Linked DNA regions of Homo sapiens: region 1 is linked to region 2. A link means that fine-mapping ties the variant in region 2 to the expression of a gene that starts in the linked region. Tissue or cell type: whole blood. Region 2 holds a variant in brackets; the other region holds the start of a gene. All regions are shown on one strand. Distances are from middle to middle.

Region 1 (7,574 bases), 23 kb after region 2:
AATGACAACTCTATCTTTCCAGGTGTTCAGACCCAGAAACCTTGAGGTCATCGTATCTGTCAGCAAATCCTGTAGTTTCTATCTTCAAAATTTATCTAGAATACAACTGCTTCTCACCACCTTCCACCACTCCACTCCAGTGCCAGCCACCGTCATCTCCGTCTGGATTACTACAGGAACTTCCTAATTGGCCTCCTCTGTCTACCTGGACCCTCTATGGCTGAGCCTCAACACGGCAGTCAGAGTGACCTTTTTATAGCTCCAGCTGGATCATGCCATTCCTCTGTGCAGATGTCTGCAGAGTCTACACATTCTGGCCTCCCACCCATTACCTCTTTGATCTCTTCTCTTACCATCCTGCCTGTCTAGGCTCTGGCCGCCCAGCCTCCTGCCTCAGGGCCTTTGCACTTGTTCTCTCCGCCTGGCCAACTCCCCCATGTCCCCCACCAGGTCCACGTGGTTTACTCCCTCACTAATTTTTCTTTGCTAAAATGTCATCTTCTCAGTGAGGCTTACTCAGACCACTCTAAAATTGTAAACCGCCCACCCCCATCCTCCTCTCCTGCTTTATTTCTCCCCACAGTACATCGCTTTCTAATATACTGTATGATAATTACATTCATTTTGCCTATTGTCTGCCATTCCTTTTCCCAAGAGTGTGCGTGCCAATGAGGACAGGGACTTTTGTTTGTTTTGTTCTCCGCAGTACCTCCAGTATCCAAAACAAGGCCTGGCATACAGAAGGCGCTCTATAAATATCTGCTAAATGAACAAATAAATCCCATTTGCACAGGACCACTGTCATTTCTGCATTTGAAATACGGCACAAAGGAATATACCTCTAATGGTGACTTCAAGCACTGTGACACAGCACACAGCAGCAGCTTACTACTTGGAACAACACTTTTAATAATAAAAGAGCTATTTATGGAGTATTTAACTATATGCCAAATGCTAGGCTATCGGTGTGACATGCATCACACCATTTAAATCTTGCCACAACCATATGAGGTAGGTAACATGATTATCCCCATCTTAGCAGGGAGTAGAGAGGAAACTAAGGCAAAGAGAAGTCAAATAACATGGCCAGGCGCAGTGGCTTACGCCTATAATCCCAGCACTTTGGGAGGCTGAGGCAGGAGGATCATTGGAGGTCGGGAGTTTAAAACCAGCCTGGCCAACACGGTGAAACCCCGTCTCTACTAACAATACAAAAATTAGCCAGGCGTGGTGGCAGGTGCCTGTAATCCCAGCTACTTGGGAGGCTGAGGGAGCAGAATCACTTGAACCTAGGAGGCGAACGTTGCAGTGAGCTGAGATTGCGCCCCTGGGCAACAGAGCAAGACTCCATCTCAAAAAAAAAAAAAAAAAAAAAAAAAAGAGAAGTCAAATAACTTACCAAAGGTCAAGCAGCTAGAGGTGATAGGATTTGAATACAGGCAGTCTGGTCCCAGAGCTAACCTTCCCGTAAAATGTGACTACATCCCTGAATGGCAAAATGTAAAACACTGTATTACATTTACACTGTATCAGTGTAGATACTGAACAGTGGTTTAAACCAGACAGGCTGTTTCTCTGCTCCATGAAGTCAAGCTGTTCCGAACACTAACTGCGGTAACCAGCCTCTGCCTCCCGGGTCCGCTTTGCCTTTCACAGTTCTTCCTTCTGACATCATGAAGACATCATGTATAAGCCTCAGTTGCTTTGTTGAAACGTGGAAGACCTTCAAGGGCTAGTTTTTGGAGAACTGGTTACATAAGAATATTCTGGATTCAAATCCCTGCCACTCAGTAACTATGTACCCTCAGACAAGTTATTTAACCTCTCTGTACCTCAACCACAGAATGGGAAAACAAATCGATGGGAAGCATGTAAGGTACTTAGCACAATGCCTGGCATACAGTAAGCACCCAAGAAATCCTAGCTGCTTTTTTTTTTTTTTTTTTTTAAGGAGAAGTCTAGCTTTGTCACCCAGGCTGGAGTGCAGTGGCACGATCTTGGTTCACTGCAACCTCCGTCACCGGAGGCAGGGCGGTTCAAGCGATTTTCCTGCCTTAGCCTCCCCAGCAGCTGGGATTACAGGCATCCGCTGCCCCCATGCCCAGCAAATTTTTGTATTTTTAGTAGAGACGGGGTTTCACCATGTTGGCAAGGCTGGTCTTGAACTCTTCAAGTGACCTGCCCGCCCTGGCCTCCGAAAGTGTTGGGATTACAGGCGTGAGCCACTGGGCCCGGCCAGAAATGTTAGTTTCTATCATTAAACCATTAGCTTCACGAATGAAGTCCTTCTTGCTAGCTTCTTGAACTGCTGTTAAAACCAACTAACCAGCTGGGCGCGGTGGTTCATGCCTGTAATCCCAGCACTTTGGGAGGCCGAGGTGGTGGATCACCTGAGGTCAGCAGTTCAAGACAAGCCTGGATAACATAGTGAAACCCTGTTTCTACTAAAAAATACATAAAATTAGCCGGGTGTGGTGGCACGCGCCTGTAATCCCAGCCACTCAGGAGGCTGAGGTGGAAGAATCGCTTGAACCAGGAGGAGAAGGTTGCAGTGGGCCGAGATCGCGCCATTGCACTCCAGCTTGGGCAACAACTAACCATCAACCACAGAAAAATGCCAAGGAAAAACTCAGACAGCTTTTCATGATCTTCCAATCATAATGATGAAAAATTAAAGGGATATGATGCATAATTTAAAATACGCTGTCTGGGCGTGGTGCTTCACACCTGTAATCCCAACACTTCGTAAGGCTTAAGCAGGAGGATCGCTTGAGCCCAGGAGTTCGAGACCAGCCAGGGCAACATAGTGAGACCACTGTCTCTACAAAAGGTTTAAAAATTAGCCAGGCGTGGTGGTGTGCGCCTGTGGTCCCAGCTACCCCGGAGGCTGAGGCAGGACGATGGCCTGAGCCCAAGAGGTGGAGGCTGCAGGGAACCGTGTTTGTGCCACTGTACTCCAGCCTGGGCAACCAAGCAAGACCCCATCTTTTATAAGTAAAAGATTTTTTACTTTTATATAAAAAAGTAAAAAGATAAAATAAAAAATATGCCCATTTGACACCAGTTTTCCCTCATCTGCTGCCTTTCATGAGCCATGGGCCTGTTGTGGGTGCAGGGGGAGTGGGCAAGGACACTTCTTTCCAGAAGTTCTCACTTCTGGCTAAGCATTCAAGGTTGGGTGAGCTGATTTTCAGAGATCCAGAGAGGTTTGCCCCTGGAAAACCGTTCACTAGATCCGGGTACGGGAAACGCTATGTGAAACCCGAGGGCCAATCAATGCCAAAGATTAAGCAGGTCCCGGGGGAAATCTCGGAGTTCCCCCTCTCCTGGAACTCAGTTCCGGGAAGCCCAGGGAAAGGACAGCTCGGCCGCTCGGGGCGACCCTGGAGGGAGCCTGGCCGCCTCCTGAGCAGTTCCAAAGCCGCCAGCCCCAGGCTCCGTGGGGCTGGCAGCGCAGGCTCCGGGGCTCGGCGCGGCCTCGGGCCCGGCGGCAGCGCGGGTTGGAGGCGCCGGGGCCGGGGCGGCGGCGGGGCCGGCGGGGGGCGCTTACTTCCTCTCGCGCGGCGGCGCAGGCCGCTCCTCCGGGACACGGCCGGGGCGGCGCTGAGGGCCGGGCCCGCTCCCGAGGGCTCCCCTGCGCCCTGGGCCGCACCTCCTCTTCCGCAGGGCCCGTCACTCCGACAAGTGCGCGTGTCACGCGGCCACGCGCCGCACGACACTCCGATACCGCCCGCGGAGCCCGCGGCGGCCGCAGGGGAAGGCGCGAGGCCAAGGCCAGCCCGGCCGCCACCCCGCCCCAGGCCTCAGGCCTCAGGCCTCCACCGCCTTGCGCTCAGCAAGACTGGGGCCCGGGCCGGGGGCGCGCGCGGCGGGGGCGCGCGCGGCGGGGGCGGGGGCGGGGCGGGGGCGCCGGCGAGGCCACGCCCTCCGCTGGCGGCCGCCGGGGCGGGGCCTCGGAGCTTCCGGGGCGAGGCGGTGGGTCAGCTCCGAGCCTCCGCCCCCGCCCTTCCCTTCGGCCCCCTGGTGGCCGTGCGTCCTAGAGCTGTCCTGCCGCGTCCGAGACGCGCGCGGGACCCAGAAGTGGCCGAGGGACGTGGTTGTGTCGTGGAGGGGACCCGGGGTGCTGGCTGCTCCCTACGATCTGGCACCCGCTCTGGGACTCCTCAGGCCTCGCTTTTCCCCATCTGTAGAATGAGCGGCTCGGTCTTTCCCGTCTTCAATATCCAGAGTAGGGATTTAGAAGTCGGAGCGCACACGCTGGCCACGCCTCCGCGCACAGCTTCAGATCTCTGCCACCCCTTATCACTTGTGTGACCCTGAGTTCAGTTTCTTCATCTGTACAGTGGGGACAATGGGAGTACCTGCCTCCGGGGTTGTCTGGCACTTGGGTGCTTAGTAAGCGGAAGCTTGGACCCGTGTGGCAAATAGAAGACTTTTGCTAAGACATTGCTAAGAAAGACAGCAAATGGAATCAGGGCTTCTCTGTAGGGTGAGAGGTATTTAAGTGAGAAAACGGGATCAGCTGCCTCTCAGAGCACTCAGTCCCCTTCCTGTCCCCCACCATTATCAGGCAGTAGGTGGCCCTCACCATGCTCCCCAACCTGCTCCCCACTTTTTCTTTTTTCTTTCTTTTCTTTTCTTTTTTTCTTTTTTTTTTTTTTTTTTTTTTTTGAGACAGGGTCTCGCTCTGTCACCCATGCTGGAGTGCAGTGGCGCTATCACAGCTCACTGCAGCCTCCGCCTCCCAGGCTCAAGTGATCCTCCCGCCTCAGCCTCCCAAGTAACTGGGATCACAGATGTTCGCCACCACTCCTGACTAATTTTTCAACTTTTTGTAGAGACGGGGTCTCACTTTGTTGCCCAGGCTGGTCTCGAACTCCTGGGCCCAAGTGATTCTCCCACGTTGGCCTCCCAAAGTGCTGGGAGGAGATTCTGACCTGAGAGAGAAACTGTGCTGCAGCTTTTTATTTCCCGATGGTTCCATTAGAGGTGGGAGCGTCTGGAACTAGCAGTGGCAACTTGGCAGTGGCCGGCAGGACTGAATGGGGCCAACAGGCATGATTACCACACAGGATGTTAGGCAAGGGGTTCCGGGAAGGCTGGGAACTGAGGGGAGCTGGGCCTCACCGTCACCAAGGCCAGAGGCCATCCGGGCGCCCGCAGAGGGCTGCCAAGCCTCGGCAAGGATTTAGGTCACACTGAGTGGGCCTGGCAGAGGGGGGAGCCAGGGAGCCAGGCACTCTCTGGGCTACCTCCACAGCTGGAAGTGAGCAGGAGGGCTTAGGGCAGGAGCGGGCCAGAGCAGACTCGAATGATGCCGGGACTCTTGGCCTAGAGCCCTTCCCATGTTCTGTGGCCCTGAGTGTGTCAGGCACCCACATAGCTCTGAAAACCAGGGCCCAGGAAGGCACAGATAGAAGTGGGCAGGTGTCCAGAGGCATGACCGGGGGTTCGTTTCCCAGATCTCCATGTGGCCATCAGAGGGTGATCTGCTACCTTGAGGGCTTCTTATAAATAGCCCCAGGTCAGGCGTAGTGGCTCATGCCTGTAATCACAGCACTTTGGGAGGCCGAGGCAGGTGGATCCCCTGAGGTCAGTAGTTCGAGACCAGCCTGGCCAACATGATGAAATCCCATCTCTACTAATAATACAAAAAAAAAAAAAAAAGCCAAGCGTGGTGGCGTGCCTGTAGTCCTAGCTACTCAGATGGCTGAGGCACGAGAATCGCTTGAATCCAGGATGCAGAGGTTGCAGTGAGCCAAGATCGCGCCATTGCACTCCAGCCAGGGCAACAGGGTGAAACTGTGTCAAAAAAAAAAAAAAAAAAAGCCAGGCACGGTGGCTCACGCCTGTAATCCCAGCACTTTGAGAGGCCGAGGCGGGTGGATCACCTGAGGTCGGGAGTTCGAGACCAGCCTGACCAATATGGTGAAACCATGTCTCTACTAAAACTACAAAATTAGCTGGGTGTGGTGGCGCATGCCTGTAATCCCAGCTACTCGGGAGGCTGAGGCAGGAGAATAGCTTGAACCTGGGAGGTGGAGGTTGCGGGGAGCTGAGATCGCGCCACTGCATTCCAGCCTGGGCAACAAGAGTGAAACTCGGTCTCAAAAAAAAAAAAAAAGAAAAAAAAACAAAGCCCCAAACCAAGTCAGTTGTAACCTGCTTACTAAGAAAACGTCCACCTGATTAGGTAACGTTGGGGTGGGGTCTGAGGGGGGAATTAGCCTAGGGGGTCACAATGCCCTCCCAACCCTATGTCCACTCCCACACCACCCTGAGATGTTTCATTTCTCCGCCTGTCTTTCCTCACCTTACCTTCACCTCAGTCTCATCCTGCCTCTGTACCTTCCAGTTTTCTCTGGGCAATCAGTTGCTTTGCTTTCTTTCCATCATGAAGACGATTAGGTCGTGCTAAGACCCAGTCATCCTGGTGTGAGAGTACTGCCACCCAAAACACAAAAATCGAAAACTTTGTCCCTGTGGGCCCTGGCATTGGTTTCTGCACCTTTGCCTGTCTGAAGCTTTTCTTGTTTCCGTGCTGACCGCAGCTACAAGGGACCAGGTGTGCCCAGAACCCCGTGAAGGAAGCCGGGAGAATGAAGGAAGCCGGGAGAAAGGAATGATGCCCCATGGGTGGTCCAGGGGGTGTCCTGTGACCAGAATTCTGTCTGTGGTTTATCTCGTGCTTTATAAGGAGCGCCCTGGGGCTCTATTTATGAAGTGGATTTTTGGGGATTTTTCTTCCTAGCCCTTTAACTGTGGTGTAGGCAGAAGTCAGGGTGAATTCAGCCTGCTTTACAGACAAGGAAAGTGAGACCCAGAGAGATGAATGACTCACAGAGATGCCTGTGGAGTTAGAAATAAAATCCCATTGCAGTTTCTATTTTCAGGTGTCACTCCCTAAGGCAGCTCTGCTGGCTTCGTCTTGCTTCTCGCAGGAGGTGGGGAGGGAGGGAAACAGGTAGAGATTTTTCAGCCACGAGTAGATCTTTTCATCCTCAGACATAAGGAGCCTCTTTTTAAAAATTTTTATTTTATTTTTTGAGACGGAATCTCACTCTGTCACCCAGGCTGGAGTGCAGTGGCACGATCATAGCTCACTGCAGCTTCAACCTCCTGGCTCAAGTGATCCCCCCGCCTTAGCCTCCTGAGTACCTGAAACTACAGGTGTACGCCACTATGCCTGGCTAATTTTTTTCTTTCTTTCTTTCTTTTTTTGTAGAGCTAAGCCCTCACTATGTTGCCCAGACTGGCCTCTAACTCCTAGGCTCAAGGTATCCTCCCACCTCGGCCTCCCAAAGTGCAAGGATCACAGGCATGAGCCATTGTAACAGACCTTTTTTATTTTTTAAGATTAGCTTCCTAAAGTCCACATAAAGTAGTTATGTAATGGTTTCCATTGTTGCCATAACAATATACCACCATTTAGTGGCTTAAACAACCCAAATTTATTATCTTACAGTTCTGGAGGTCAGAACTTAGTTCTTACCAGGCTAAAATAATGGGTCAGCATAAATTCCTATCTGGAGGAGCCATTTCTGGTCAAGGCATAATTCAGTACCTTGTGGTTT
Region 2 (7,574 bases):
GAGAAAGCATCTCAGCTGCAGGGACCCTCAGGTGCCAAAGCCCCGAGGCAGGAAGGAACTTGGTGTGCTGGGGGCCAGATGGAGGTGAGCAAAGAGTGGGGACAGCGGTGAGGCTGGAGAGGAGATCAGGGGTCTTGCAGGATAAGGCGAAGAGGCTGGACTTTTTTCTAAGATCAGTTGTAGGGGGGACACTGGAGGATCTGAGGCAGGAGAAGACGAGACCTGACCTATATTGGGGATCGACCCCTGGTCTTGGGGGGAGAATGGGTGCAGATGCAGGGAAGGCAAGGAAGAGGCTGCACAGCTGCCCAGCAGAGACGACAGGGCCTGGACTAATGGGCAGTACAGGAGCTGGAGGGGAGGGAGAGGCACCCCAGAGTCAGGATTGACTGGACCTGCTGACAGATGGGGTGGGTGTGAGCAAAATGGAGGCCCCCAACATGAGCCCTGGAAGTGGGGCCTGAGCAGAGGGATGGGCAGTGGAGGCGCTCACAGACACGGGGAGGCGGAAGCAGAGGGGTTTGGTGGAGGGTTTAGGTGTGTTTAGGCTGAAGACCCCCAGGCGCAGATGTCCAGTTGTCAGGTGTACGGGGTAACTGTGACGATAAAAGGGAAGAACACCTGGAGAACATGGAGCAGCACGACCAGCATAACAACAGCAACATAACAACACCAGCCTAACAACACAACACCAGCATAACAGCAGTGCAGCAACACCAGCGTAACAACAACATAACAACACCAATGTAACAACAGCAACATAACAACATTGGCGTAACATAACAACATCAGAATAACAGCAGTGCAACACCAGTGTAACAACAACATAACAACAGCAGAGTAACAACGGCAACATAACAGCAGCAACGTAACAACACTGGTGTAACAACAGCAACGTAACAACACTGGCGTAACAGCAACATAACACTGGTGTAACAACATAACACCAGCATAACAACAACAAAACAACACCAGCATAACAACATAACACCACCGTAACAACAGCAACATAACAACACTGGTGTAACAACAATGCAACACCAGTGTAACAACAGCAACATAACACTGGTGTAACAACAATATAACAACACTGGCGTAACAACAGCAACATAACAGCACTGGCGTAACGACAACATAACAGCACTGGTGTAACGACATAACACTGGCGTAACAACAGCAACACCAGTGTCAACAGCAATGTAACAACACCAGCATAACAACAACATAACACCAGCTTAACAACAGCAATATAACACCAGCTAACAGCAACGTAACAACACTGGCGTAACAACATAACGACACCGGCGTAACAACAGCAACGTAACAACACCGGAGTAACAACATAACACCAGCATAACAGCAGTGCAACAACACCAGCATAACAACATAACAACAGTAACATAATACCAGTGTAACAACAACATAACAGCAGAGTAACAACAGCAACATAACACCACCAGCATAACAACAACGTAACAACACTGGCGTAACAACAGCAACATAACACTGGTGTAACAACAACATAACACCGGCGTAACACCAGCATAACAACAACAAAACAACACCAGCATAACAACATAACACCACCGTAACAACAGCAACATAACAACACTGGTGTAACAACAATGTAACACCAGTGTAACAACAGCAACATAACACCGGTGTAACAACAATATAACAACACTGGCGTAACAACAGCAACATAACACCGGTGTTAAGAGCAATGTAACAACACCAGCATAACAACAACGTAACACCAGCTTAATAACAGCAATATAACACCATTGTAACAGCAACGTAACAACACTGGTGTGACAATGTAACAACACTGGAATAACAGCAACATAATACTAGTGTAACAACCACATAACACCAGCATAACAGCAACGTAACAACACTGGCGTAACAACAATATAACAACACCAGCATAACAACATAACAACACTGGCTTAACAGCAACATAACACTGGTGTAACAACAAGTTGTTGTAACACCACCACCAGTGTAACAACAACACAACACTGGCGCAACAATGGTGTAACCATACAACACCAGTGTAACAACAACATAACAACACTGGTGTAACAACAGCAACATAACAACACCGGTGTGGCCAGGCATGGTGGCTCACGCCCATAATCCCAGCACTTTGGGAGGCCAAGGCAGGCGGATCACGAGGTCAGGAGATCGAGACCATCCTAACATGGTGAAACCCCGTCTCTACTAAAAAATACAAAAAATTAGCTGGGCGTGGTGGCGGGCGCCTGTAGTCCCAGCTACTTGGGAGGCTGAGGCAGGAGAATGGCGTGAACCCAGGAGGCAGAGCTTGCAGTGAGCTGAGATCGCACCACTACACTCCAGCCTGGGCGACAGAGCGAGACTCTGCCTCAAAAACAAAAACAAACAAACAAAAAACATCAGTGTAACAACAGCAACATAACACCATCATCGTAACAGCAATGTAACACTGGCATAACAACATAACACCGATGTAACAACAGCAACATAACAACACCAGCGTAACAACAACATAACAACAGTAACACAACACCAGCATAACAACAACATAACAACACCAGAGTAACAACAGCAATGTAACAACACTGGTGTAACAACAACATAACAACACCAGCATAACAATGTAACAACACCGATGTAACAGCAGCAACATAACAACACCGGTGTAACAACAACATAACACTGGTGTAACAATGTAACACCAGCGTAACAACAACAAAACAACACCGGCATAACACTGGCACAACACCGGCATAACAGCAACATAACAACGGTGTTAACAGCAATGTTACAACACCAGCATAACAATATAACACCAGCTTAACAGCAATGTAACAACACTGGTGTAACAGCAACATAACACCAGTGTAACAACACAACACCGGCATAACAATGGTGTACAACACCGGTGTAACAACAACATAACACTGGTGTAACAACAGCATAACAACAGCAACATTAACACTGACATAACAACATAACAACACTGGGATAAGAATGACAACACCAGTGTAACAACAACATAACACTGGTGTAACAACAATGTAACAACCCTGGCGTAACAATATCGGTATAACAACGTAACAACACGGGTGTAACAACAGCAACGTAACAACACTGATGTAACAACACCAACATAACACCACCAGC[G/A]TAACAACAGCAACATAACAACACTGGCGTAACAACACCGGTGTAACAATAGCAACGTAACAACACCAGCATAACAACACCAACGCTGACAGCAGCCCCGGCCCGCGCCGCTCCTCCCCATACTCACAAAGACCCTGCACGCAGGCACCGTGATCACTCCTGCTCCGCGAGTGAGGAAGGAGGCAGGTGACCAGGCGCGGGGGCAGAAGCAGACACTGCTTAACCACGAGCTCCGCTCCACTCCCTCCTCTGAGGCTGAACCCCGGTGAGCACTGATTATCGGTGACTCGAATATACAGGACAGTCCCAGAGATCAGGGTTCCAACGCATACCACCTCGCAGGAGAGTTCCAATGCCCAAGTCTCCTCACACCCTCACCTACAGAGAGAGCCTGGCCTCAGACACGAGGAGCCATCATTTCTCAAAGGCTTCTGCACGTAGGACCCCTAACCTGGGATTTGTTTGTTCACCCAGCAAACTCCCAGTCATCCTTAAGGGCTCAGCTTCTAGGAGCTTTGGCCTACCCCTTCTGAGGGGCCCTGGCTTCTTCTAGCCCAGCTGACTGTAATTCAGGCCTGTTTCTCTTTCTTCCCCACTACGAGGGAGGCTCCATCTGAGTGGCATCTGCCCTCTGCTGCATCCCTAGCCCCTAACACAGCACTACGTTCAGACAGTGGACAGCAGAGAAAATGAAGATCCACACATTGTCACGGATAAACCTCCAAGACGTAATGTGGTGAGAAAGCAACATGATTACTTTGATAAAATAAAAATTAACTTGAAAATAGGATATAGGCCAGGCGGACTGGCTCATGCTGGTAATCCCAGCACTTTGGGAGGCCAAGGCAGGAGGATCACTTGAGCCCAGAGTCCAGGAGTTCAAGACCATCTTGGGCAACAAAGTGAGACCCTGTTTCTACAAAAAATTAAAAAAAAAAAATTAGCCAAGTGTGGTCCCAACTATTTGGGAGGCTGGGGTGGGAGGATTGCTTGAGCCCAGGAGGTCAAGGCTGCAGTGAGCTGTGAACCTGCCACTGCACCCCATCTGGACAACACCGCATGAGACCCTGTCTCAAAAAAAAAAAAGAAAGAAAAAGAAAACAGGATATAAAGTGACCAAAATAAACAGAACTTCAATAAATGAAAAATATAATTGGAAACTAGAAATTCAGTAGATGGGCCTTACAGATGAGAAACAGCTGTAAAGAGTCAGCTAGCAGAAGACAGAGCTGAGGCGATTCTCCCAAATGCTGGACACAGAGACAAAAAGATCCATGCTCGGACACATACAGGATGACTCTTGTTCAAAATTAAACAACAGGTTGTTTAGGGAACCAGGCGTGCATGGAAACAGAAAGAGAAGCGAGGGAATAATCTATCCACAATTTGGAAGTGTAAGATGAGGAAATAGGTCAGAACGTGGGGAGGGACACGCAGGAGAATCAAATTCTTTTTTAAAAACGGGTGGTAGGTGCATCCCCGTTTCTTATACCATAGTTCTGTATCTCTTCCATGCATTCTGTAAACTTTAAATTTACCTAGTATCTAGTTAACATTTAATTCCAACAGACAAAAAGCAGCAGATCCTAAGTTCAGGCCTGCTGAGCCCAGCATGCTCCCCTCCCAGCAGCCACTCTGGGTCCATGGCGCCAGTCCTGGGCACCTGCCCTGACCAGGTTGGTGGTGTGCACTCTCGGGCCAACCAGACAGCAAGCATGTCCAGGTCATGGCTGGGGGAACAACCTGCCCTGAATCCAGCCCGATATGCCATTCCCGACAGCAGCACCAGTGTTGGGGGGCAAGAAATGAAGCCGGCAGCCACTCGTAGGAAGGCACTCTGTCCCCGGCCATAACAACCAGGAGCTAGAGGGTGCAGCTCTGTCCAGGGATACTAAACCTTGAAATGAGCAGGAAGTCCAGCCCAACTGTGCCAACCAAAATGCCAAGAGTGGTCTCCACTGGGAAAACAATGGCTGAGATCCCCCAGCTCTGTAGTGTTGTGGCCTTCAAGTTCTTGTGCTATTGTTGAGAAGACATCCAGAAAAAGAGAAACTGATGCCAGCAATGTTTGTGGATCAGTCCATTTATCCTCAGAATAACAACATATAAGGAGGCCCCTCTATTTCCCCTATTTTAAAATATAAGGAACCTGAAGTTCAGAGAGGTTGGATAACTTACCCAAGGTCACACACAGCTGGTAAAGAGGTAAAAATAGCTTCAAACCCAGGCAGTTCGACCCAGAGCCTGCAATTCTTACCACCAAAACATTTCCCTTTTAATTACCCACTCTTCAACCCTACAACAGAACGGTGTGAAGTTGAGTGGCGTGGGCACCACTGGCCTTTAGAAACAGAGCACAATGAAGAAGCCGGCTGAGCTTCTGGAAGGAGGGGTCTAGGGCAAAGCTCAGAGATTCCAATGCCTACCGGGGCCAGCAAAAGCGAAAAGGATGGAGTAAGGCTGGTGTCCCTCAGAGGTACAGTTAAGTACCTCAGGTGCATTCAGGTGGTGCCTCACAGGAGTGTGGGCCCAGGGTGACCAAATCTTCCAATTCTCCTTTTCGGGAGAATGTAAAAAGACAATTCTTCCCTTCCCCTGCAATAATAGAACAGGAAAATCAGGAATATCTTGCATTTGAAAGGGACCTAAGGCCTGGCACAGTGGCTTATGCTTGTAATCCCAGCACTTTGGGAGGCTGAGGTGGGCAGATCTCCTGAGTCCAGGAGTTCAAGACCAGCCTAGGCAACATGGCAAAACCCCATCTCTACAAAAAATACAAAAATTAGCTGGGCATGGTGAAATACACCTGTGGTCCCAGCTACTTGGGAGGCTGAGGTGGGAGGATCACTTAAGCCTAGGAGGTCGAGGCTGCAGTGGGCTATGATTGCACCACTGCACTCCAGCCAGGGCGACAGATAAAGACCCTGTCTCCAAAAATAAAAAATAAAAAATAAATAAATAAATAAGAGTTATTGGCCTCAAACAGTTAAACAGAGTCATGATCCTCCAGCAACCCCACTCCTGGGTTTATACTCAAGAGAAATAAAAATGCAGGTCCACACAAAAGCTTGTACATGAATGCTCATTGCAGCATTATATATAACAGCCAAAAAGTAGAGGCAACCCAAATGTCCACTAACTGGTGACTGGATAAATTATGGTATATCTATACAATAAGATATTATTCAGCAGTAAAAAGAAATGAAGTGCTGGTACATGCTAGAACATGGGTGAACTCTGAACTCAGGATGCTAACTGATGGAAACCACACACCGTATGATCCTATATGTACAAAATATCCAGAACAGGCAACCCCGCAGAGAGAATGCATTTCTGTGGTTGCCAGGAGCTGGGGAGAGGGGGAAATTGTGGGATGACAACGAAGGGGTACAGGGCTTCCTTTGCCGTGATGAACATGTCCTAAAATTGATTGTGGTACTGACACACAACTCTGTGAATACACGAAAGCTCACTGGCCTGTCCACCTTAACTGGGTAAAGTGTAGTAGGATTTGTGAGTTACAGCTCAATAAAACTTTTTAAAAAAGGTTTTAGAACAGGGAAGCAGAAGCACGAAAGAGGTACTTCAGGAAGATGAAGCTGTCTGCGACCTCCAAGATGAACAGGATGGGACTGGTGGTAGTGAAATCAGTGAGGCAGCCTTTGCTGCCATCAAAGGAAGTAACAAAGGTAGGAGGGAACGAAGTCACAGTGAACTGCAAAGAAGTTATTATAGCAGATGAATACAAACTACTTGGTGACTGGCTGGATCCTTGAATGGTGGTACAGAGCTGTGATCTGGAGTGTGGTCTCTGGAGCCAGGCTGCTCCAGTTTATTTTATCTTATTTTATCTTATCTTATTTTGTTTTATTTTATTGGAGATGGAGTCTCCCCATTACCCAGGCTGCAGTGCAGTGGCGCGATCTTGGCTCACTGTAACCTTCGCCTCCTGGGTTCAAGCAATTCTCCTGCCTCAGCCTCCCGAGTAGCTGGGATTACAGGCACAAACTACCATGCCTGGATAATTTTTGTATTTTTAGTGGAGATGGGGTTTCACCATTTGACCAGGCTGGTCTTGAACGCCTGACCTCAAGTGATCCACCCGTCTCGGCCTCCCAAAGTGCTGGGATTACAGGTATAAGCCCCCGTGCCCAGCCTGCCCCGGTTTAAATACCGGCTCTGCCATCTTTCAGCCCTGTGATCTCCAGCAACTGACATCACCTCACATACGAACAAGCAACAATCCCCGCACCTCCCTTACAGGGCTTCTGTGGGCCTGAAGGAGTTAATATCCACACAGGGCTTGGAACAGTGGCTAGCACACAGGAAACACTGATAAAGACTGGTTGGAATTTTTCTTATGACAGATGCTGTAAGAGAAGGGCTACCAGCCTGGTCACTCAGAG

The links. PIP is the estimated chance that this variant, and not a neighbour inherited with it, causes the effect.
Region 1: H6PD starts here. The variant in region 2 is fine-mapped to the expression of H6PD in whole blood (TOPMed, PIP 0.99).

The regions. Positions count from the first base shown.
Region 1 is chr1:9,231,043-9,238,616 of GRCh38, reverse strand. H6PD (hexose-6-phosphate dehydrogenase/glucose 1-dehydrogenase) reads right to left here and starts at 3,843. Exons shown (of 5, transcript NM_004285.4): 1 at 3,551-3,843. RefSeq lists a silencer at 3,431-3,990.
Region 2 is chr1:9,253,825-9,261,398 of GRCh38, reverse strand. The region is part of intron 3 of H6PD (hexose-6-phosphate dehydrogenase/glucose 1-dehydrogenase); the gene reads right to left. Among named protein-coding and RNA genes, the nearest start is that of H6PD, 23 kb to the right of the region's middle. The variant G/A (reference allele first, on the strand shown) is at 3,169.